Regions from separate parts of the Homo sapiens genome. Here regions 1, 2, 3, 5 and 6 are each linked to region 4. Evidence: fine-mapped expression QTL. A gene starts in region 4. Each other region holds a variant in brackets. All regions are shown on one strand. Distances are from middle to middle. Region 1 overlaps STPG1 (sperm tail PG-rich repeat containing 1). Region 2 overlaps GRHL3 (grainyhead like transcription factor 3). Region 3 overlaps STPG1 (sperm tail PG-rich repeat containing 1). Region 4 holds the start of STPG1 (sperm tail PG-rich repeat containing 1). Region 5 overlaps NIPAL3 (NIPA like domain containing 3). Region 6 overlaps NIPAL3 (NIPA like domain containing 3).

The links. PIP is the estimated chance that this variant, and not a neighbour inherited with it, causes the effect.
Region 1: its variant is the best candidate, but not a certain one, in a credible set for the expression of STPG1 in esophagus mucosa (GTEx, PIP 0.58).
Region 2: its variant is the best candidate, but not a certain one, in a credible set for the expression of STPG1 in gastroesophageal junction (GTEx, PIP 0.76).
Region 3: its variant is the best candidate, but not a certain one, in a credible set for the expression of STPG1 in thyroid (GTEx, PIP 0.79).
Region 5: its variant is the best candidate, but not a certain one, in a credible set for the expression of STPG1 in whole blood (INTERVAL, PIP 0.51).
Region 6: its variant is the best candidate, but not a certain one, in a credible set for the expression of STPG1 in whole blood (INTERVAL, PIP 0.78).

Annotation. Positions count from the first base shown.
Region 1 is chr1:24,369,054-24,373,226 of GRCh38, reverse strand. It overlaps STPG1 (sperm tail PG-rich repeat containing 1), which reads left to right. Exons shown (of 9, transcript NM_001199013.2): 7 at 3,388-3,553. Among named protein-coding and RNA genes, the nearest start is that of STPG1, 43 kb to the left of the region's middle. The variant G/A (reference allele first, on the strand shown) is at 1,688.
Region 2 is chr1:24,341,840-24,346,012 of GRCh38, reverse strand. GRHL3 (grainyhead like transcription factor 3) reads right to left here. Exons shown (of 16, transcript NM_198173.3): 9 at 3,740-3,898; 10 at 3,241-3,319; 11 at 2,988-3,121; 12 at 1,082-1,116. Among named protein-coding and RNA genes, the nearest start is that of GRHL3-AS1, 22 kb to the right of the region's middle. RefSeq lists an enhancer at 2,640-3,454. The variant A/G (reference allele first, on the strand shown) is at 2,074.
Region 3 is chr1:24,376,124-24,380,296 of GRCh38, reverse strand. It overlaps STPG1 (sperm tail PG-rich repeat containing 1), which reads left to right. Exons shown (of 9, transcript NM_001199013.2): 5 at 474-644. Among named protein-coding and RNA genes, the nearest start is that of STPG1, 36 kb to the left of the region's middle. The variant GGAT/T (reference allele first, on the strand shown) is at 2,285.
Region 4 is chr1:24,411,752-24,415,751 of GRCh38, reverse strand. STPG1 (sperm tail PG-rich repeat containing 1) reads left to right here and starts at 1,970. Exons shown (of 9, transcript NM_001199013.2): 1 at 1,970-2,078. It also overlaps a transcript of NIPAL3 not described here. RefSeq lists an enhancer at 2,355-2,474.
Region 5 is chr1:24,436,748-24,440,747 of GRCh38, reverse strand. NIPAL3 (NIPA like domain containing 3) reads right to left here. Exons shown (of 12, transcript NM_020448.5): 3 at 508-576. Among named protein-coding and RNA genes, the nearest start is that of NIPAL3, 23 kb to the right of the region's middle. The variant C/A (reference allele first, on the strand shown) is at 1,701.
Region 6 is chr1:24,452,364-24,456,363 of GRCh38, reverse strand. NIPAL3 (NIPA like domain containing 3) reads right to left here. Exons shown (of 12, transcript NM_020448.5): 7 at 2,860-2,956; 8 at 91-226. Among named protein-coding and RNA genes, the nearest start is that of NIPAL3, 39 kb to the right of the region's middle. RefSeq lists an enhancer at 39-551. The variant A/G (reference allele first, on the strand shown) is at 1,607.

The sequences.
Region 1 (4,173 bases), 43 kb after region 4:
ACCCACTCCACGGTGAGTGGTTTCCATGCAGTCTTGCAGGTCTGCCGTCATAGGTTCATCCACTTAGCCCTACTTTTCAGATGAGGAAGTGGAGGCTCAGAGAGTTGAAATGACTTGCCCAGTGTCACACAGCCAGTAAATGGCAGACACAAGCCCAGAGGGGTCTCACTAACGAGCCCACGTCCTCCATCATTCCATTGTCCCTTCTGGAACCTCCAAGATTCAGGAATACACAAGAGCTTTCCTGCAAGTGTTTCCCCTGCCGGCCTTGGGGAAGGGTGTTGCACCTCTCCTGTGCTCTCTGACCTCCAGTGCTGGAGCACTTATTATATTAGATTATCCCAAATAGGTCCCACAGACCACACCCCAACCCCAGAAGCCCTGGGCACCAGAGCTGCCCCAGGAACCTTGGGCCCCAGAAGCAGGAGGAGGAGCAGGGAAGGTTTGCTTCTGCAATCATGCCTCTTGCAGAGGGGTGTGGATAAAATTGTAGTGCATGTGAGATTTCAGCAAATCCAGATTAAAGTTGAAAAGATCAATCTGAAGCTGAATAACAAAACCAGCGCTAATTAGGAGGCTCAGCCCCAGTTCATGCTCTCCTGCCTTGCATCATCCATGGGCAAAACCCCACCTTGTCTATTTATACAGAAGAACAAAGCCAGCATCCCTGGGGTTGGCCAGAGTCCCTGCCAGTGAGCCCTGGGATGTGGGCACCTCCACAGTCTGCCCCTGCTCCTGCTCCCTCCCGGGGTGGGGGGATCCTGAGAAGCCCCCAGCCCCTTATAACACAGAACAGGAGGGGAAGTGTGGGTACTAGCATCTGTTAAGCTCCCCGTGGGTGCCAGGGGCCTTACATTCATTATCTCACTGAATGCTCCAAAGCCCCATGGAGCAGGTACTCACCACATAATCATGGGCTCAGAAAGTGTGAGCTCTTCTTCTTCTTTTATCCCCACTTCACAGGCAGAGGAGATAGAAAAGCAGGTGACAGGCCCAGTGTCCAACAGCTGGATTTTTTTGTTTTTGTTTTGTTTTGTTTTGTTTTTTTGGAGATGGAGTCTTGCTCTGTTACCCAGGCTGGAGTGCAGTGGCACGATCTCGGCTCACCGCAACCTCCGCCCCCCGGGTTCAAGTGATTCTCCTGCCTCAGCCTCCCAAGTAGCTGGGATTACAGGCATGCGCCGCCACGCCCGGCTAACTTTTGTATTTTTAGTAAAAACAGGATTTCACCATGTGGGCCAGGCTGGTCTCAAACTCCTGACCTCAAGTGATCCGTCTGCCTCGGCCTCCCAAAGTGCTGGGATTACAGGTGTGAGCAACCACGCCCAGCCCCACAGCTGGATTTTAATCCAGGCTCATCTAGTTCAATATCTGGTACCTTCAGCTCACCCTCCACCCCAGCTTCCTGGCGGCTGGCTCTCTCTGGTAGTGGCAGCATAAATGCCTTCTATTCCTTGCTTTTGCTTTTCATTGTTTTCTGTATTTTGTAATTCAAGTGTTGCTATAACCTTTTTAGTAGAAATATATATACAAAACAGAGAATATGAGAGATAGTTATCCAGTATTGTAAATGCTGCTGACATCTGCTTCTTTAAAAATTTAAGCATATACTGGGAACATTTTTTTTTTTTTTTTTGAGAGGGAGTCTCGCTCTGTTGCCCAGGCTGGAGAGCAACGGTGCAATCTC[G/A]GCTCACTGCAACCTTCGCCTCCTGGGTTCAAGTGATTCTCCTGCCTCAGCCTCCAGAACAGCTGAGAATACAGGTGCACACCACCACACCTGGCTAATTTTTTAAATATTTTTAGTAGAGATGGTGTCTCACCATATTGGTCAGGCTGGTCTCAAACTCCTGACCTCAAGTGTTCTGCCCACCTTGCCTTCCCAAAGTGCTGGGATTATAGGTGTGAGCCACCGTACCCGGCTGATACTGGGAACGTCTTTTCATGTTAGTAAAAATCCTTTCGGAACATCATTTTAAATAAATATATAGTATATTCTTATATGATAGTACCATAAATTAAGGAGCCAGTATTGTCTTATTGAAAATTGTGATTATTTTGAATTGATTGCTAATATGAATAGAGTGGTGGAGAACATCCATTCACAGGGCTACTGACAACTTAGGGGTGAGATCGCTTCCTCTTCACCCCAGTTTTGGTCATTCTCTTCTTCCTTAAAGCTTTGTACACAAATTCATTTTATTCTGTCACAGTTTCTTGAGACAGGGCATTGTGGTGTGGTGGGGAAGTGTGGGCTTTGGAGACAAGCAGACCAGTCTCTACATAGTGGTGCTCAACACATACATGTTAGCTGGGCATGATGGCTCACACCTGTAGTCCTAGCACTTTGGGAGGCTGAGGTGGGGGGATTGCTTGAGCTCACAAGTTCAACACCAGCCTGGGTAAAATAATGAGGCCTCATTTCTACAAAAAAAAAAAAGCTGGGCACAGTGGCTCACGCCTATAATCCCAGCACTTTGGGAGGCCGAGGCAGGCGGATCACGAGGTCAGGAGATCGAGACCATCCTGGCTAACATGGTGAAACCCCATCTCTACTAAAAATACAAAAAATTAGCCAGGCGTGGTGGTGGGCATCTGTAGTCCCAGCTACTTGGGAGGCTGAGGCAGGAGAATGGCGTGAACCTGGGAGGCAGAGCTTGCAGTGAGCTGAGATCACGCCACTGCACTCCAGCCTGGGCGACAGAGCGAGACTCTGTCTCAAAAAAAAAATTTTTTTTTTAATTTGCAGGGTGTGGTGGTACATACCTGTAGTCTCAGCTACTCGGGAGACTGAGATGGGAGGATCACTGAGCCCAGCAGGTCAAGGCTACAGTGAGCTGTGATTGTGATTGTGCCACTGCATTCCAGCCTGGACAAGAGAGCAAGACCCTATCTCAAAAAAAAAAAAAAAAGATAGTTGTTGATTGCATGATATTTACAAAGCATCCACTATGTGCTAGGAACTTAAAATATTATTCAACTGTCATAACAACTCTGTTGTCAGAAGAATTATTATTCTTAGTTTATAGAGAAGGAAAACTGGGCTCCAGCAAGGTGGAGAGATTTGTCTAAGTCCCTGGTTAGATGAATGTCCTTTGGCAAATTATTTAACAATCTCTGAGTCTCAGTTTCCCATGTGTAGAATGAAAGCAGTAATACTCATCTTGCCAGGCTAGTGCGAGAACTAAATCAGCTAAGTGTGTGCTTCCCGTGCCATCTGTTCTCTGCATGGTGAGGATTGTTTTTGGCTATCTCAGTCAGCCCTTCCACTTGGCCATCCTAGAGTGATGGTGCCTTGCAGCCATCAGGTGTGTTCTTAGGGGTAAGGTACTGCTTTTTATTTACTTGAGAAGAGTTCCTTATTCTGTCCTAAAATTTCTTTCTCCTTAGGGCATTATGATATCAACGAATCCCTTGTGAAGCAGTCGCCAAATACATTAATGTCTTGTTTTAAATCAAAAACCAACCGTGGATTAAAACTGACGTCAACAGGCCCGGGACCTGGTTATTACAACCCCAGTGATTGCACAAAAGTTCCAAAAAAGACTCTTTTCCCGTGAGTCCCAATCATTCTGGTCTTTCTTTTGAAAGGTGGTTGTGGGGAAGAAGCCCAACATAGAGAAAAGGATGGGGTGTCACTGCTTGGCAGAGCACAGTGCCGGGCCACTCTCTTCAGGGGCCCTTAGTCACACATAATGATGCTCAGTAAATGCCTGTTGAATGCCTGATACTTATTGAGCAACCACTGTGTGCCAGGAACTTAAAATTGTATTCAATTATTATTATAATCCTGTTGTAAGAATTGTTACTCTTACCCCATAGAGGAGGAAGCAAGGCTTCGGATTTGGCGGGACATTTGCCCAAGTCCACACAGCCAACTTGAGGAGCCACAGGGAATTGGCTCAGGACTAAGTCTTTCCTCATTCCCTGTGATGCTGGATTCCCCTGGTGCTGACATTGTTCTATTTTTGTAACATAAAATCTTCGCTGGAGTGGCAGGACATTCAGAAGCAGTCAAGCTCTCATAGCTTTATACCGATGGAAGTTTAAGCCCTGACTTTCGAGTTGGTGATACCTGCTGGATTTGTACTTCAGCTCTGCTGTTTTTATGCTCTGTGACCTTGGGCAGAGTTCTAACCTCTCTGAGCCTCCATGCCCTCATCTGTAAGGTGGGAA
Region 2 (4,173 bases), 70 kb after region 4:
CATAAAGCAAGGCAATAACCCTGCTTGCCTAACTCTGAGGCTGTTGTGAGGTGACAAGTGACATAATTTGGGGTGAAAGCACCAAGTGAAAAGTACATTTTGTTCATAGGGAAGAAACTGATCATAACAGCAAATGATCTTCATAAAGTGCTTTCCCACTTACGAAGATTCCATATCCACACCGCCCTCCTCACCCTCTCGAGGCTGTTTTCCTCATCTGACAAATGTGTAGGCTGAGGCTCAGAGAGGTGAAGGGACTGCTCAGGGCACTAAGGCTGTGACTGACAGAGGGAAGGACACAAAGGCCCTTCCTAGGCCAAAGTGTCAAGGGGTGCCGGCCCCAGCTAGGCCCCCCAGTGGGGGTGTGTTGGGGAAGGAGATGGAGGGTTTTCATCCCCTAAGCCTCCAGCACAGCTTCCCTCTTCTCTCTGAATCTGCACCACCACAGACTCTTTTCCTTTCCCTTTTTACAAGCGGGTGTCTCGCCAGAGATTCGCCGACTTTTCACATAAAACAAACCCATAAAAACCCAGGCAGTTTCAGTGAGAAAGAAGCATGGATCTAGCTTGGGGGCTGGGGGCAGAAGCTGGTGGCTTCCTCCTCTGGCCCCACACCCTAGCTTGCAAGGAACAGGGAGAAAAGCAGGCTGGGGGCAATGGGCATGGTACAGTGGGCATGGTACAGAGGGCACAGGTGTAGAGGGGGTACAGGTGTGGCGGAGGCACAGGTGTGGAGGGGCACAGGTGTGGAGGGGGCACAGGTGTGGAGGGGGCACAGGTGTGGAGGCGCACAGGTGTGGAGGGGGCACAGGTGTAGAGGGGGCACAGGTGTAGAGGGGGCACAGGTGTGGAGGGGGCACAGGTGTAGAGGGGGCACAGGTGTGGAGGGGCACAGGTGTAAAGGGGGCACAGGTGTGGAGGGGCACAGGTGTAGAGGGGGCACAGGTGTGGAGGGGCACAGGTGTGGAGGGGGCACAGGTGTAGAGGGGGCACAGGTGTGGCGGAGGCACAGGTGTGGAGGGGGCACAGGTGTGGAGGGTGCACAGGTGTGGAGGGAGGCGTGTGGTTGTTTCTCTCCATACCTGTTGGAGCTGCTGGGTCCTGCCGAGGGGGCTGCCTGCAATGAAGTGAAAAAGACATTTTCCATCACACGCAGGAAAATGAGAGGAGCCCCTGGCTGCTGGAGGCTCTCTGGGAGGAATATTTTTGGTGGGAGGTGGGGAGAATACTGTTACAATGCCTTTCTAGCCCATTCTGCTCAGACAAGTGCCCTTAAGTGACCTGAGATGTTGAGTGGAAAGGAATCACCCAGCCCGAGCTGGATGGGTCAAGGACTCAATGAACACACAGGAGGTGCTAAAGCCATGTTGTCAGAGCAGAGTCACACTGAGCCCCACCTGGGCCCCAGCATGCCCAGAAGGGCTGGGAATTGCAGATGGTCCTGCGGCCGGTAACTAGGCAGTTGGAGCTGAGGGCCAAGGGAGCAAGGGCAACAGGGCTTTTTTTTTTTTTTTTTTTTTTTTTTTTTCTGGGGGGAAAGAGTCTCCCAGGCTGGAGTGCAGTCCCACCATCACAGCTCACTGCAGCCTCGACCTCCTGGGCTGAAGCAATCCTGCGGCCTCAGCTTCCCAAGTAGCTGGGATTACAGGTGTGTGCCACTAAGCCTGGCCAGAGGCCCTCTTCTTGGACCCTACAGTGTGCCTGGCACTGTGCGGTGTGGGGCAGGCATCAGTCAGTCTTGTGAGGTAAGAAGCTGAGGCCTAGAGAGAGCAGAGAGCTCTAGAGATGACACGCCCGGCAGGAGGCAGAGTCAGGGTTCAAACTCAGGCTCTCTGTTGGCTATTGCCCTGGGCTTCCCCTCTCCCAGGCTCACAGGTGTGGAGACTGGCCCACCCTCAACCCCCACAGGTTGACTGTCAACCTAGCCACAGGGGCCTTCACCCTGAGTGGTCATCTCCTTACTGAGGGCCTCTAGTTGGTGAGAGAGTGAGGAGAGCCAAGAGAGAACAGGTTCACACAGCCGCCTGTGCTGCGGGGCCACAGCGCAGCTCCCAAGATGGCAAAGAGAGGAGGG[A/G]CACAGACAGTGCTCTGCGCCTGTGCCAAGCTCTGTCAGCACTGGCCGCTCTTCTCAGCGCCACTGTCTACACCTCATTGTCCTAAGTCAATACACTAAACATGCCTTGTACACCAAGGTCCATTTGTATAAATATTCCTGAAGAAACAGTGCGGAGCTGTACCCTTAAAGGAAGGAAATGCTCAGACTCTCCAGTATGGAAGCGCACTAGGAGACAGGCTCTGGGGTCTTGACCCTGCCATTGAATTGTTGTGGGACCGTGCCTGGAAAAGGGGGTAGGTGCAGTCTCTCGGAGGACAGCTGTAACAGGGAACCCAGCCCACTCCTGGCTGCCAGGCGCTCAGTCCCGGCTGCTTGAGAGGCGGAGCAGCTAGTGGGGAAAGGTGTGGATTCTGAACAGGTGCCTCAGTCCAGATCCTGGCTCTGCCACTTACTAGCTGTGCAATCTCAGGAGGTTTCTTAACTTCTCTGTGCCTCCATTTCTACCCCACAGATCCAGGGAGACATTATTATTGACTTCCCAGGGCTGTAGAGAAGGGTAAGGACGGTGATGCCTGGGAAGCGCTCAGAGCCGCACCTGGCACACAGTGAGCACCACAAGTGCTGCCGTGAGAATTCCATGGGGCTGCAATCAAATTTGGGGTCAGATATCAGAAGCCTCCTCTTTGTGTGCCCTAAGCATGAACGTTTTAATGGTTACGAAATCTGTTTCTTCATAACATTCTTCTCTTCAATACAATAGGTCACTGAAGCTATAGGACCATATATACATGTTTAAACCCCTATGATTCAATAAAGGTCTTGAAACTGGCTGAGGGGCAGGCTGCTCCCCACTGGTCTGTGCTAAGGCAGGCCCCACCTAGGAGCCAGGACCCTCTCTCGGCTCCTTCCCGAGACCCCAGCCCTGGCCTCACCCCTCCAGAGCGCTGCAGGCTGGAGAAGTGCACATTGGGGATGAACAGCACGGGTGGCGTCTCCAGGTCAGTCTCTGGCCGAAGGTAGGTCGTCTCATTGCCCCTGAAGCCCGACAGCAGGCAGCCCTTGACGCCTGATGGGAGAAGGAAGCCAATGTGCCCCGAGGTCCCTCCACTCAAGTCCCTCCCACCTCTGGTCTCCTTCTCCCCTTCACGCCAGCCGAGCCCACCCAGGCCCTGGATCCCCACTGACCACTGTTGCTGGAGTCAGGGCACTTGACCTTCCTCCGGAACTGCTTCCGCTCGTCATCGCGCATCTTCCTCTCAGCTCCCTGCAGGGGAGAAGGAGAGAGGGTCACCAAGGGCCTGGGAGGGGCTAGCTACTTTCACAGCTGCTGCTTTGCATCTTAAATATGGGCCAAGCTTCTGGTCCTTCTTTTTTCCAGAACAAGACCAGGAAATGGGAAGGTACCAGCACTTACCTGGCCCAGCCTGGCCAGTGGGGCCTGGCCCTGCTTGCCTGAGGTCACTACAGGCCATGAGAGAGGCGGACAGACAGAAGACAGAAAAGAAGAAACTCAGAGAGACAGAGAGATGGAGGAGTGGGGGTGGAGGAGGAGAGGGGAAGGAGGAGAAGGGATAGAAAAACAGAGAGAGACAGACAACCCAGAGAAGCTAGGAGGACGCACGGGTCAGGGTTTGGCCCTTCTACCTCCCCGGGACCCAGTATAGGGTCTGCCCAGTCCAGCCACCTTGTCACAGAAGATCTTGATCTGGCAGACAGCACGGTGTACCAGGCGCTCAGTGCCCAAGCCACAGTCATAGGTGTCAATCTGCAGGTTCAGGGGGACACCCTTCACCCCCTTTTGTGAGGAAAAGTCTGTGCTCAGACAGTTTACGCCGATGAACACCTGGAGACAGAGGGGGCCGCTGGGTAAGTGGCCTGCCCAGGTGGCCAGCCCCACCGTCCCACAGTGATCCTGTATTTCTAGCTTTCTGTGTGCCTGCTGCTCACCCTTAAGCCTCACTAGGCCCCTAGAAGGCAAACATCAGCACTCCTCTTTCACAGATGGGGAAGCCAATGCTCAGAGAGGTGGGGCAACTTTCCCGAGGTGACACGGGCAGTGTGTGGTGCAGCAGGGGTTTGAACCCAGACTCACAGCCCAGGCTTTTCACCGCTGTTGGT
Region 3 (4,173 bases), 36 kb after region 4:
AGATGGACAACAAGCCCCCTGGAGCTTTGTTTGAAGCAAACTCGTTGCTTAGGCAGTTCAGATCATTTAACCTTAGAAACAAGATGTGAGATTTTACTCAGAAGAAAAGCCTAGGCTGAGAAGAGCATCTAAAGCTTCCTATCACATAAATTACCCAACAGCTGATGAGTCAAGGGTAAGTGGCCTGGAACAGGATTGGGTGGAAATGCATTTATGGCAAAATCATTTTTGCCAAGTCCCAAACAGAAGATGAATAATTTGAGTTAGTTTACAGAAGCGAGTACAGGTCTGAACTTGCGTTTTCCAAGGGAAGATCCTCAAAGCCTGAGGTCAGTTTATCATTGTTACTGCCAGAGTTTCGCCTTTTATAAAATGCATTTAGACCTTGTGCTGGTCACCATCTTTTTGACATCTGTCCTTCAGATCCACAATATTATGTGACAATGCTGATTCCTTTGGTTGTCTCCTTACAGTGCGCCCGATTGGACACCATCATTTCTAAATACCCTGCAGCGAATGCATACACTATCCCATCGGATTTTATTTCCAAGAGAGACTTTAGTAATTCGTGTTCCAGCATGTTCCAGTTGCCAAGCTTTATGAAAGCTCTCAAGTTTGAAACTCCTGCACCAAACTATTACAATGTAAGAACTCTGCCTATGCTTGCTAAATACAGATCGAATTAATGGTTTACTAAAATAAAAGGAAGAGGGGATCTTGGGGACATCGTATTTTAATGCAGTTGTCAAGCCAGTTAGCATTTGTTGACTACCCAATGGGTGCCTAAGGCTGTACAAGACTCTTACAGGGAATTTGCAGACCCCAGAGATCAGGATGGGCAACATGGAGGCCAGTATCAAGCTGTGGGGAGGCCACTGCCCTGAGAAACACATATTCTAATTACTCTTGTCCTGTAACCTTTCTGGGACGTAGTTTTCTCATCTGTAACAATGGGTGTATTATTTACCACTTTGTCTGCAGCCACTAATGATTTACTTTTTAGGTTCTTCTAGGGAAAATAAACTTTCATATCAGAAAATAGGTGTTTTAACAGTCGTGCCCTGCTGTGCCAATTATGATCGCTTTGTATTCACTGACGCAGAATGGCATGGATGGTTAAGAGATGGACTCAGGAAGGTTTGGTTTAGCTCTCATCTGTTGCCACTTTCTAACTGTGCGGCCTTCGGCAAGTCCCTTAACCTTTCCAGGGCTTAGTTTACTGATCTGTAAAATGGTGATGTATGTTCACCTCATCGTGTTAATGCAAATATTAAATGAGATAATGTATGCTTCATGCCCAGGACAGCACCAGTCACACAAGGACCACACAATACATGGAGATTGGTAGGGCTGTCTTTGTTAGTACATGAAGGGTATTTACTTACCCTTAAATACAAGCAAGTAAGTAAGTCACAGCCCCCACTGTACAATGGAATCAATTCTACTTGCCCTACAGGGTTACCATAAGGCAACGAACGTGAAAGCACTCTGAAGTGCGCAAGATATGAATTGTACTTAAGACATTAATGTTATGCCATTTTCCAAACTATTTTGGTTTTATACATTTATTATACCATTTCCTTTTTTCCTTCATAATATTGATAATTAATAATTATTTTTCTGACTACAAAAATCCTGCCCACCTTCTATGATGGATTCAAGCTTTTTTTTGAGACGGAGTCTTGCTCTGTTGCCCAGGCTGGAGAGCAGTGGTGCAATCTGCAGGCTCCACCTCCTGGGTTCACACCATTCTCCTGCCTCAGCCTCCCAAGTTGCTGGGACTACAGGCACCCGCCACCACACCCGGCTAATTTTTTGTATTTTTAGTAGAGATGGGGTTTCACTGGGTTAGCCAGGATGGTCTCAATCTCCTGATCTCGTGATCCACCTGCCTCGGCCTCCCAAAGTGCTGGGATTACAGGCGGGAGCCACCGTGCCCGGCCTCATTTAAGATTTTCTAGTAGCCACATCTAAAAAGAAAAAGGGACAGATGAAGTTAATTTGAGTAATATAGTTTACCCAACAGATCCAAAATATTATCATTTCAACACTAATCAATATAAAAGTTATGAATTTTATATTTGAGGAAGACTATTTTCCTTGTAGTGAGTCTTTAAAATCCAGTATGTGTTTTATTCTTCCAGCACATTTTAATTTGGGCCAGCCACGTTTCCAGGGCCAATAGCCACATGCAACCTGTGGCTACTATACTGGGCAGTCCAACTCCAGGCAGTCTTCCCTCGGCATAATCAGAGCCTGAAAATGATGAGGAGGAGGAGGAGGA[GGAT/T]GAAGCACTTCTCATGTACTAAGTGCTGGTCTAAGAGTTATGTATTAATCATATTTAATACTCACAAGTGAATCCATAAAGTGGATTATCTTGTTCCCAGTATAAAGAAGAGAAAGCTAAGGCTCAGAGAGGTGAAGGGACTTGCACAGTTACCCAGCTTGAAGGCATCATTTGCACTTCAGTGGGCACCAGTGGATGGCTGGGGTGGAAAGCTGGGGAATGATCAAAGTCACCTCATTCCAGCCCTGACAGGCTTCCCTCTGTGGATCCTGTTGCTCCTCTGTGCCAGGCTGGTGATACAGCTTAGATTCCAGTGGGGAATTCAGAAAAGAACAGGTAAACAAACAAAATAATTACAAACTGTGGTCAACTTTGAGGGACAGCTGGAGCTTGAGGGAGAATATGTGGGAGATATGGAGGTTGGCAGTACCAAGTCAGCCTTCTCTGACTTGGTGGTCAGAGAAGGCTCCGAGACTGAGACCCAAGGATTGAGGAAGAGCCAGGGTTGGAGAAAGAGCATGTGCCAAGGTCCTGGTATAGCAAGGAGCCCAGCCCACGAGGACCTTCAGGAAGGTTGAGTGGCTAGTGTAGGATGAGCAAGAGGAGAAGGGAGAAGGGGGCACCAGACAGACACCGGCCAATTCACACAGGGCCCTGAAGATCCCAGGAGGAAGTTCACATTTTGTTCTCTGGGTCCTAGGAAGCCCATGAGTGGGGCTGGAGGTATGGGGTGGTGTGATCTGATGCTTTTTTTTTAGATGGAGTCTTGCTCTGTCGCCCAGGCTGGAGTGCAGTGGCACGATCTTGGCTCACTGCAACCTCCGCCTCCCCAATTCAAGTAATTCTCCTGCCTCAGCTGGGATTACAGGCACATGCCACCATGCCCAACTAATTTTTGTATTTTTTTTTTTTTAGTAGAGATGGGGTTTCACCATGTTGGCCAGGCTTGTCTCAAACTCCTGACCTCGTAATCCATCCACCTCGGCCTCCCAAAGTGCTGGGATTACAGGCATGAGCCACAGCTTCCAGCCAATCTGACATATTTTTTAAAAAGTTCCTTCCAGCTGCTGTGTGGTGAATGGACTGCAGTGTGGGTTGGAGAGTGGGTTCTGGAAAACCAGCGAGGAGATTATTATGCTAACAGGAGAGATGGCAAGGTGTGATACAAGAAAGTGATCAGAAAGGGGCTTAGCCATTGCCCCTTTGTCAGTCCCAAGTGGGAACCAGGCTACTTGGGAGAAAAACACAGGCACCGACTGTCTGTGCGGATGCCCCTCTCTGCAGCCTCCCGGTTGTAGCTGAAGGATGCTGCCGTCAGTGTTTCATGCACCATTCTCCCCGAATCACTGTCTACTCCTTCACCCGGCTTCCTGTCTCCAATGCCCAGCACAGGTCCTGGGATGCAGTAAGCATCCAATCAATGTTTATGACATCAAAGGAATAACTTTCCAGTAGTATGCAGCTGTTAATCTAGAAAGGACCTCTTCCCAAGATAGAATTGTGTCCTTCTGCCAATAGATACATTTAGGCGCATGTTTTTTGTTCATTATTGTCTTAATATGACCCTGAAAATAATACACGCTCATCATAAAATATATTCAAGCCCTGTAGAAACCCATTAATTAGAAAGTGGAAGTCCCTTATAATTCTACTTCCCAAGGGAAACCACTGCATCAAAAACCAGGTGCAGGCCAGGCACAGTGGCTCACGCCTGTAATCCCAGCACTTTGGGAGGCCAAGGTGGACAGATCACCTGAGGTCAGGAGTTTGAGACCAGCCTGGCCAATATAGTGAAACCTCGCCTCTACTAAAAATACAAAAATAAGCCAGGCATGGTGGCACACACCTGTAATCCCAGCTACTCGGGAGGCTGAGGCAAGAGAATT
Region 4 (4,000 bases):
TTGCCAGACTGCCTGCCAGTCAGAAGTTGGCAGGCATTTCGCGCAGGCAAGTGGCTGCGAGGACGGGGAGTAGGCGGGACAGCCCCTGGCAATTGGCTGCGCTGCAAAGCTTGCTTGAAGCATAAGGGAGCGACCTGGGGCTAGAGCTTGGCGCTCACCTGGAGCGGGGACCCCCTAGCGGCCACAGGAAGAATGGTGCGGCGACTCCCCTGCCCCCTCTCCCGCTGTCCCAGAGAGCTTAGGTGGTTGCTCGCCTCCACCTGCCCGGCAGGTGGGCCTGGTTTTAGCAGCCTGCCAGGTGTCCTCCCTTCTTATCCTCATAGCCACCTTCCGGGCTTTGCTCCTGCTGTTCCCCTACCCGACGCTCTCACCAAGTATTCAAATCCAAAACGTCCTTGAAGACCCAGCGCTCCCCAGAGCCCTCGCGAGACTTGGGACCAAACATATCTCTCCTTTCCTGCCCTCCTGGAACACCTGTCGGATACCAAGCCTCCCAGCAATACTGAAGGTCCTGAAACGAGCCCAGCGCTTGGTTAATGTTTCTATAATGTACATAATTATCACGGCCATGATAATTAACATGCGCATGGAGTTTTACAGATGACAAGCTTCTCATCGCTCACACGTTGTCATATACACGCATTTGCTTTCAGATCGTCACAGCCATGAGTGAGACTTGAAGCCCGTTTTACGTATGAAGAAATGTCATTTGGGCCTAGACATCAACAATGAGAAAGAGGCAGTTCTAGTCTCAGATCGTGGGGCAGAGAAAGCTCCTTGGGAACATGGGAGAGGAACGAGTTGGTGCATTGTAGAAACTGCCCGAAGGCCAGCAGGGCTGGTGAGAGATTTTTCTGGGGGCGTGGTTGGGCCTGCGATCTGAGGGACGGGCCAGGGACAGTTTATAAATAACATATTTGGGGGCCGGCGCGGTGGCTCACACCTGTAATCTCAGGACTTTGGGAGGCCAGGAGGATCACTTAAGCCCAGGAGTTTGAGACCAGCCTGGACAATATAGTGGGACCCCATCTCTACAAAAAAATTTAAAAATTAGCCGGGCGTGGTGGCGAGCGCCCGTGGTCCCAGCTACTCAGGAGGCTGAGGCGGGAGGATCGCTTGAACTCGGGAGGCGGAGGTTGCAGCGAGTCGAGATCGCGCCACTGCACTCCAGCTGGGCGACAGAGCAAGACCCTGTCAAAAAAAAAAAAAAAAAAAAAAAAGCTTGGATTTCACCCTAAATTTAAAGGCGAGCCATTGGAGGACTTTAAGCAGGGGAGTGACAAGGTCGCTGAGACCGCCCTGCCCTGAAGCGTGTGAAGAGGGGCTCCTGGAATACTAAGTGGCTGCCCTTGTATAGTCGCCCATGTCAATTTTTTTTTTTTTCTTCTGTTAGAAACAGGGCTTGGGGCCGGGCGTGGTGGCTCACGCCTGTAATCCCAACACTTTGGGAGGCCGAGGCGGGTGGATCACCTGAGGTCAGGAGTTCGAGACCAGCCTGGCCAACGTGGTGAAACCCTGTCTCTACTAAAAATACAAAAAGAATAGCCTGGCGTGGTGGCGAGCGCCGGTAATCCCAGCTACTCAGGAGGCTGAAGCAGGAGCATCGCTTGAACCTGGAGGGCGGAGGTTGCAGTGAGCCAAGATTGCGCCACTGCACTACAGCCTGCTCGACAAAGCGAGACTCTGTCTCAAAAAAAAAAGAAACAGGGCTTGGATGAATGTTAATTCTTTTAGGTATATTCCTTGAAGCAGGATTTTTGAGTGAGCAAAATTCTGAGGCTTTTGGTTTATCACAAGATTTTTGAAGCATGGCCTAGATAAACCTCTTATTAGTTCCCCACCCCGCTACAGGCCCTGATGTAATTAACCTAAGCCCTAAAATTCGGCCGGCTTCTCTGCGGACTTTGAAACGCCTCTAATGATTGGTCAACAACTTTTCACGTTAAAGAAACAGAGGATGCCATTGGCTGGAGTTACCTCGCGGACGGCGGAAGGTGGACTCGCGAATGTTAGGCCTGTGGGTGCCATAGCGACCGGGAGGTTGGGCTGGCCAGATTCAGCTGCCGGGACCGGACCAGGTAGGAAGCAGTTCCGGCGGGGGGACCGGTCCCTGAGGTCGTGGGGAAGAGGACACGGCGCACCATGTCCTCCGCATGGGACGCCCGCGGAGACCCCCCGGCCTCCGGGTGCTTGCGGAATTCCAGGGCTGAGCTAGGTGGAGCCCCGAGGGCGGGAAGAAGCCACCATGGGAGTTGCCCCTGCGTCGGGGCGTGTCCTCGGTGTTTCCACCCGAAAAGTGGTGACAACTGGGGCTTGCCTGCTCCACCGAGCTCCTGCCAGGGGCGTGGGCGTCCGACCCTTCTGGCTCAGGCTCCGCGAGTGCGCAAAAGTTGGGAGGCTTCAGTGCCTGGCAGTGGGTGGACGCCAAAGACCTGATCTCTACTCATAGGTTCACCCCAGCTCAGGGGGTGTCCCCCAGCAAACGACTTCCCTGCTCTGGGCCTCGATTTACCCATCTGTAAAATAAAAGGGTGAGATTGGAACCTGGTGGTCACTAGCCCGCCGCTAAATTTCCTTCCAGCTCCCTGATACACTTTCTCAGCCTATGAAGACTATCGAATGGGTTATTTACCTGAGAGTGCTTTGAAAAAATGTAAGCTGCTTCCAAGATGCTTATAACTGAGTAGATAAAAATCGCCTACAGACGAAACTACTCAGGACATCCAAAAAAATTCTATCTAAAGTAACAGTATACATAGTTTAGTACATGTTTATATACCCTGTACAGTAACATGTATAATGTAAACTGTAATACTTAGCATATATAACGTTTTTTAAAAACACAAGAGATGATAAAATGAAACTGTGCCTATAGTTGTGATCATGTGAGCTGTCCTTGTAGAATCTAACTCCCGCTGGAAATATATTCTGAGCACAGCTGTACACACAATTGCTAAAAGGTGTCTACCTCTAGTATTCATTCATTCATTCATTCCACCAATATTTATGAAGAAAATACTAATTTTAAAAATTCTCAATACTATTATTATTATTTTTGTAGAGACAGGGCCTTGCTATGTTGCCCAGGGTAGTCTTGAACTTCTGTCTCAAGCCATCCTTCCCCCTCAGCCTCTCAAAGTGCTGGGATTACGGGTGTGGGCCACCATGCCTGGCCAATTGAGCAAATACTGTATGTGAGGAAATAGACTGAAGATTCAGAGTTGAACTTTCTACTGGGGAAGATCATAAACAAATAAAGTAATAAACATACAATATAATGTTGGGTAGTGAAAAGTGCTTTGAAAAAGATAAAGCAGAGTAAGGGGCTAGAGAGAGATGGGTTGGTGCTTCTTAAGAGAGGGTGGTCAGGGAAGTCATCCCTAAGAAGGTTTGAGCAGAGAGTCTCGTGAATTTTGTGACAGGACTGCAGGACGATGCCTGGGTCCGGTGAGGAAAGGAGCTCCCCATGCAGCAAGGAGATATGTGGCAAAAGCCAGGGAGGTCCCATGTGGAGAAGAAGATTAGTCTTTAGGTGGTGGGGCACGACAACTGCCTTCAAATTCTTGCAGAATAGTCATATAGAACAGTGGCTTTCAAACCTTTTGACTGTGACTCATGGTAAATGCATTTTATATTGTGACCCAGCATGCACACACGCATATGACAAACTAAAACTTCACAAAAGACTACAGACTATGACTTGCATTTTGAAAATCACCAATGTGGAAGAGAAATGAGACTTACTTTGAGTTGGTTCCAAGGGTGGGAATTAGGACGGATAGAAAAAGAAAAAAAGAGAGAGAGAATCAGCTTTGATACAGGAAGGAACTTTCTAGCAATTAGAACTGTCCAACAGTGAACTTCCCCCAGGAGTTTTTAAACTGTGTTCTGATGAAACCTAGCATTCTGTGAATATTCAAGAGAGTCAAATATTTGCCCCCACCCAGCCATCCCTTATTTGCTTTATATTTTGAAAACTATATGCAATATTGTAACTTCA
Region 5 (4,000 bases), 25 kb before region 4:
TGCCAGTAACACCAGCTCCTTGGTGCCCCCATGAGAAGCTCATTAGCTATCAACTTGCTACACACCACAGCTGCTTGTGAACTCAGACAGGCCGAGGGGATTTGGAGGTCAGTGGGGGGATCCACAGCAGCTGTAGAGGGCATCCCTGAGGCTTTTAAGTAATGAACAGTGCTGTAATTAGAGTTGAATTTGACAAAACTATGGTAATTCCAGCAGCTTTGCAGCAAGGCAAAGAGGGATGAGACCAGAGCCAGAGAAGCTAGCAGGAGGTCACTGCAAAGCCCAAGGAGAGACAGTGAGGACCTGGCTAGGAGGGCGAGGGCGGGATGGAGTGGGGCCACTGAATCAAGAGAAATCCTGGAACGGCCCACAAGGTATTGTCCCAGGTGCAGCCCAGGGATGCAGTAGGCAAGGCCCTGCAGAGAGGAGGCAGCTGGACCTGGATAAGACACCCTGACTTGTCTGCTGTGTCTCTGTCCCCAGACAGTGCTGGTAACTGAAACTTACCTGGAGGTTAAGTGCAATGCTGACCACGAGGTGCCCGAAGATCGCCAAGAGGGCGCCAATCAGGTTTTCCTGTAAGGAAAGTTCACAGGAGTGGACATGATTTGGGCACAAGCCAGGGGGCCCCAGGACACTTCTGACACTCAACCATTTGCTGCCCCAAAACAAAACCAGAAAAACAATATCAGTGACAAAGCCACACTCCAGACCCACAACTGGAATGTTACTACTGAAGGTTAATCTGGCTGCTTTGCTGGTTTACAAAATGCTGCCCTGAATTGGATACTTTGGTGGCCCGATCACACTGACCTGACAAGGTCTAAACCTGCTGTGCTATTCCCTTTAAAGTATTAACTTGCCACCATCTTGTGCAGAAAAGCAACATTCCAAAATCAGAATTTACAAGAGAAATATAGGCCAGAGAATACTTTTTGCTATCTTGTCAATAGTGTCTTCAATTTCCCAGAGGGTTTCAATGAAACTCTTTTAACTGGCTCACTTGCTTAGGGCATTGTCAATTACTCAATTTATAAAAAGTTAATTTACATCACCTATGAGTTAGGTTCAGACTACCTGGCACGGAATTTTGTACTTTCTAAAATGATTACCAAACATATATTCATTGTAGACTAAATAGGAAATATATATAGATAAAAATAATAATATCTTAGACAAGGTAGCATGAGAAAAAAATGAAAAAAATAACAATAACAACACCACCATAATAGAAAAGTCACTTTTAATTCTATAACCCAGAGATAATGACTATAAACATTTTGGTTCTTATTCCTGCAAACATTTTTCTGTCCATAAATTTACATATCAATGGAAATGTTAATTTACTTTATAAAAATAAGATTACCATCTGTTTTATAATCTGTTTTTTTACTTAACATATTGTGAGCACATTTCCCTGTCAGGCATACCTAATTTGTCATTTTTATTAAATGTCAAATAACTCATTATTTTTGGATGTGCCATATTTTATATCATTGCTTTGCTATTACTGGATATTTAGGCTGTTTCCTTTATTATTAATTTTTCATTTAACTTTATTTTAGAGTCGGGGTAAATGGGCAGGTGTGTTACATGGGTAAATTGTGTAATGCTGAGGTTTGGGTTTCTAGTGAACCCATCACCCAAATAAGTGAACACAGTACCCAATCGGTAATTTTTCAACTCTCACCCCCACCCCT[C/A]CCCGTTTTGGAGTCCCCCGTGTCTATTATGTTTCCTTTTAAAAAAACAATGCTGTGATTGAATAGCCTAGTGCACACATTTTTGTGCGTTTGTATGGATTAGTCCCTTGGGACAAATTCTTGTAAGTGGAATTGCTGGGTCAAAGTGTACTAGCATTTAAACCACACTATAGCAAGTCCCCAACACACCCTCCATCCATATTCCACCACTGAACACCAAGGAATGCTCTATGCTGGCCAATGCTGCAACCTCCTTCCCAGCATGTTCTCTTCCCAACCCCGCCTGGTTCCCCTCCCTGGTGAAATCCTGCCCATTCTTTAAGGCGGGGGACAGGCCCTAGGGAATCGGCAGTTAACAAGACAAACAGTCCTCACTGTCATATGTTCAGTCCATCTGGAAAGACAGATAATTAGCAAGCTGCCCCGCAGTGGCCAGAGCTGGCCGAGGCTTCCCCCTCAGGACACAGTCAGCAGTAACAGTGAAGTCAACCCTCCCCCCTGCCCTCTCCTAGATCGCGGGGCTTAGAGAGCTGAGGGCAGGTCTTCCCTGAGAAGGGGCAGTTGGCCAGGGACGGGAGAGGGCAGGAGGACCGAGAGGGAGGCCCACCAACTGAAATCACTATGGATAGCTGTCCTTAACTTCTCTCCCAACAAGGCTCAGCGCTGCCACAGAAGGGAAAGATGTGGAGCCAGGGGACCCCAGTCTAGTCCCAGCTCTGCCACAACCTCACCACACCTGAGATGTGTCCCCCACCTGGAAAAGGTCAGAGCTGGGAACTGATTCTGACTCACCCGATGAGCAGCAAGACAGAATAAAGCCACCTGCAGGCAGAACACGTCCTTCCTGTGGGATGACAGGATCTCAGAGCTAAAAGGCTCGCTGGAGACCTGCCCAGCCAGGGTTTCCCCAGCTGAGTTCCCAGAGATGCTAATGGGGTGCCAAGGCAAGAAAAGCACCATGTAGTTAAAGGCAATGCATCCTCTACCCACTGCTGGGAGGCCCCCAGAGCATGTTAGAGGCTCTCAGGGGAGTTTCTCCTTGTCTAACTCAGGTTCTCAAACTCATTTGGCTCTAGAACTCTTAACCTGGAATCCAGCCATCAGCATCTGGAGTAAACATCTATGACTCTCACTTGACTAACATTTTAATCCTTTCCTTTTCTTCTGATAAACGACACCCTGATTTTGCTGGGGAGGACTCTCCTCCGCCCCCTCCCCATTGGACACGGTCTTATTGGAACTGTCATTCCCAGTGCTCCATCCTCCCTAGACATCACGGCCCAAGTGTGACCCAAGCCAGGCAGCCCAGAATCTCTTTCTCTGGGATCCAGATCTTGGACTGAGAAACACAAAGGCTGAAGAAAGGTTGACTCCCTTCAGCCCAAGGTGAGGCCTGAGCAAATCATTAGTTGTCGCTCCTCAGGACCCTGGGGCCATCCTGGTTCCAGACCTCCTGGTTCCAGACCTTCCTGAAGCCAGGAACAGCCCAATTTTGCTTAAGAACTTGCTTCTGTTACTTGCAACTAAAAAGCTCAACAGAATCAGCACTTTGTGGAAAGCATTTTGGGACATGTTTATTATTAGCCCAACTTCTCATAAACATGAGCGAGGTTTTTTCTTCCCCCTTAGAGCCATGGCTTTGGTGGACAAAAAAGGCAATCTGCTTTTATTTTGTAAAAAGAAATATGTTATTCAAATTTAGTTTTTTGAAATAAAACCTTACCACAGAACTAATTATTATACATCTAACAAATTGTATTTACAAATATAATGAATCTTAGTTTCAATATTTTTTTGAGATGGAGTCTCACTCTGTCGCCCAGGCTGGAGTGCAGTGGCGCAATCTCGGCTCACTGCAAACTCCACCTCCCGGGTTCACGCCATTCTCCTGCCTCAGCCTCCCAAGTAGCTGGGACTACAGGCGCCCGCCACCTCGCCCGGCTATTATTTTGTATTTTTAGTAGAGAGGTGGGTTTCACCGTGTTATCCAGGATGGTCTCAATCTCCTGACCTCATGATCCGACCGCTTCGGCCTCCCAAAGTGCTGGGATTACAGGCGTGAGCCACCACGCCCAGCCAGTTTCAATATTTTAATGCTCCTTGCATACAAAAAATTATTTTATAACTTTCCATTTAAAAAGTCAATTATAGAACATCTGCTTCTGGGAAGATGGAGTAGATGTACTTTTCCCTATTCTTCCTGCTATGTACAACTAAAACCCTGGTCATCACATATAAGGCAAACAAAAGGCTGGGCGCGGTGGCTCACGCCTGTAATCCCAGCAGTTTGGGAGGCCAAG
Region 6 (4,000 bases), 41 kb before region 4:
CCTTGTGGCTTCACAGCATACGTCATCAGGCCCCCAAAAGAGAAGCAGCCCGAATGGCAGGGCCCAGCAGGAAAAGGATTTGTAACTCACGCAGCCTGATAGACGGCGGTTGCCACCATGCACACGAACATCACGTAGAAGATGGGGTAGTCAAGCTGCAGGTTCCCTTGAATGGACAAGACAAGCATCCCAGCCACGGCCTTGACTGTCACCACTGTCATGGAGCCTGCAGATGGGAGACAAGGGCGAATGGGGAGCCTCAGGGAAATGCAGAGAGTTAGGTCCGGAAAGCCAGTCTATAACCCCAAAGGACTTGGGGAGACAGAGGGGAGGGAACAGGAACAGAGTCAAGCCGGCAGTTTGCACAGTGACAGACGCCGTTTGCACTGGGTCTCGTGTGCACCTCTCCCATGGACTCCCATGCTCTGTGCTGACTACATCCTAAAGGAGGGAGGAAAGCCAACCCCCTGAAGGTAATCCTAGACATCACTTCTAAACTGCCAAGCATGGGCAGTAAGTTCAGTTCTCTGAGGCCCGGAGTGCCCAGCACTGTGGCCAAAAGGATCCGAGTGGATCAACGAACTTACCAGTCTCATGGCAACCACAGGAAAAACATGTGTTGGGTAAACAGCTTAGGAATTGTTGGGTTTTTTAGTGCTCAGTCACTTGTATTTTTTGTTGTTGTTGTATTTTTTTTTTTCCTTTTTGTGGACAACAGGGTCTCGCTATATTGCCCAGGCAGGTCTTGAATTCTTGGGCTCAAGCTACCCTCCCATCTCTGCCTCCCTAATAGCTGGGATTACAGGCGTGAGCCTCCGCGCCCAGCTGGTCACTTGTATTTTTAAAAACATTTCTCCAGTGTTTTGGAATGCACACCCCTGTGCATATGTGCAAACATTTCCAATATGTGTGTATCTGTTTTCAAATTAAAGTCATGTGACCCTGAACTTAAATGGTAGGCATGTTATAAAATTTGTACAGGAATATAATTTAAAAGGCAGAGAAAAAATGATTGAAGTTCTAATATTCTCTCTGTGTACCCAGCGAAGCATCCTGCTCACCTCCCTGTGGAGACCCTTGCTCCACCCTACTGTTCAGAAATGTCTTCTAACTGCAGACTTTCAGACTGCCCTGCCAAACAGGAGTTAGAGACAGCCCCCAAGCGTGGTCCAGGTGAAGCCCCCGGTCCCTGCTGCTGTGCTTTGCTTTCCTATTCTTCAGCTTTGGTTTATTTCGCTTTCTCCTGCCAACACCCCCAACACGCAGTGTCTCTTGGGCTCCTCACCCATTAGGCTACTGTTTCCAAACGTCAGCAACCACTTAGGCACTTGTCATCAGGTAGTCCTTCTTAGTCAGAAGGGGATTGGCCAATGGCCTCAGAACCTTCTGGCCTTCCTACGTAAGAGGAGAGGATGTTTCAGGGCCGTGATCCTTCCCATCCACTTTGAAAACAAAGTCACCGAGGAATGAAGGACTGATTCATGCTATGATGTGGGTGAACCTCAGAATCATCATGCTCAGTGAAAGAAGCCAGTCATATCAGGCCACAAAGCATACGACTTTATTTATGAAGGTGTTCAAAAAGGCAAATCTACAGGGACAGAAG[A/G]TAGCTTAGTGGTTGCCTGAGGCTGGGAAAAGGGGAACAGGGAGTGACTGCTAATGGGCACAGGGTTTCTTTTGGGGGTGACAAAATGTTCTAAAATTAGATTAGGATGATGGTTTCACAACTCTATGAAATACTAAAAACCACTGAATTGTATACTTTAAACAGGTGAACTTTATGGTATGTAAATTATATCTCAACAGAGCTGTTAAAAAATTAAGGAAACCCTGTCTTCGGTGACAGGTATCTATTTGGTTGATGGCTTGTGGCGGTGGTAGGGCACACAGTAGGAAGGTTGGAAGAAAAATGCACATATTAGCCACCTGTGCACATCTCATTTAACCCCCACTCCCTTCCGTGACTTGGATGTTCTCATAGGCCCCCCCTTTAGAGAAGTGGACAGCGTGGCTTAAGGAGGGAGGGTCATTAGCCTGAGGCCACTCAAGAGCAGCGCGGTAGCAGGCTTCACCAGCCCTGACACCAGCCTGCTCCTCCGCCTCTGTCTGCTTCTCCTCAGGAAGGATGGATTCCCCACAGCTCTATTTAGCTATAAAATTATATGCAGTTCTAGCCAGGTACAGGGCCTCATGCCTGTAATCCTGGCACTTTGGGAGGCCGAGGCAGGGGGATCACTTGAGGCCAGGAGGTCAAGGCTGCAGAGAGCTAAGATTGTACCACTGCACTCCAGCCTGGGTGACAGAGCAAGACTGTCTCAAAAAAAAAAAAAAAGGAAAAATTAATATGCAGTTCTAGCCTCAAGCTGATTCAGGAGCTATCTCTTCCACAGCACCCATCCCTCTAAAAGGAAAAGAAAAAATAGATGACAAAATCTAGTTTTACCTTTGAATCAGAATGAATCCCTAAGCTCTGATAGGTTTTGCATGGATCTTTTCAGGGCTCAATCGCTGGGGCATGCTCTACTACTACCGTCTCTGAAACAAACTAACTCACCTCATCCTCACTCTACTTTATTCTTCCTCATTGGAATTGTTATTGCCCAAACTTACATGACCTATGAATTTGGCTAGTTGTTTAGTGCTATTTTCTCCCTTTAGATTGGAGGCTCCTGGAGCACAGGAGTTTGCCTCCGGTCAGCAGGGACCCAGCTCCCCAGAGCCACTGATGGAGACAGAACAACCTCAGCCAGTCTCAAGCAACTTCTGTGCCCAGCGGCTACAGCTCTGCAAACAAAACCCACATTTCCATTTGGTGCTTCTTGGTGGTGGCAAAACTCAATCATCCAGATGCCAACTTACCAAGTAACGCCACCAAGAGAAGAATCACGACAATGTTGTTGGCGTTCTTCTCCTTGTAGAAGTAGAGCAGCAAGCAGAACAGAATGATCTCCACCAGCTGTGGAAGGCAGCAAGCAGGGGGGTCAGTGGGGACCACAGAAGTAGGCGAGACCGGGAGACCCTGGTGGGCTGGGCCATCACCAGAGTCACAGGGTTGAAAGGGAATGACTGAGCTATGATTCAGCATTTCCCAAACTACTGTTAGACGTTCAGGGGAAAAGGGAAACACAGAGTGAATCTCTCTAATCCCTGGCTAGTACTGAGAAGGAATTCCCTGTTGTCCTGAGGCTGAAGCTTTGAGGGTGACGTGCTGCTCTCATATCCACTCTTTCTTGGAGGGCCAAGATGCATCAGGCTGAGATGGTTTCTTCCCACTCCACTGCTCCATGGGCATCCCCATTAAAACAATGGGTTGGTCCAAGAGGGAGACACTTGTTCACCAACCTATTTGGTCAAGAATGTGAGGCCAGGCACGGTGGCTCACACCTGTAACCCTAGCACTTTGGGAGGCCAAGGCGGGTGGATCACCTGAAGTCAGGAGTTCGAGACCAGCCTGGCCAACATGGTGAAACCCGGTCTCTACTAAAAATACAAAAAAAAAAAAAAAAAAAATTAGCTGGGCGTGGTGGCATCTGCCTATAATCCCAGCTACTCAGGAGGCTGAGGCAGGAGAATTGCTGAGATCACGCCACTGCACTCCATCCTGGGAGACAGAGCGAGGCTCCATCTCAAAAAAATAAATAAATACATAAATAAAGAATATGAGTATATACTCCCTGTGCTCCCAGCCAAGCTTCCAGTGTGAAGCTTCACAGAGTAGAATGAGGAAGGCCTTTGGAGTCAGGGAGACCTGGGCTGGAACTTAGGTCTGCCTCTAAACTAGTCGTGTGGCCTTGGGTAAGTCACTTAACTTCTCTAAACCTTAGTTAACCCTCTGTGGAGTAGGGTTAAGAATTCTTTTTATGGGCCCATAATCATAGCTTACACTAAATGACGTCTCCTTGTACGCCAGGCAGTGTTCTAAGCATTTTATCTACGTTAAACTCACTAAATCAGCACAATAACTCTACGAAGCAGGTACTACCACGATGGCGTGGCACAG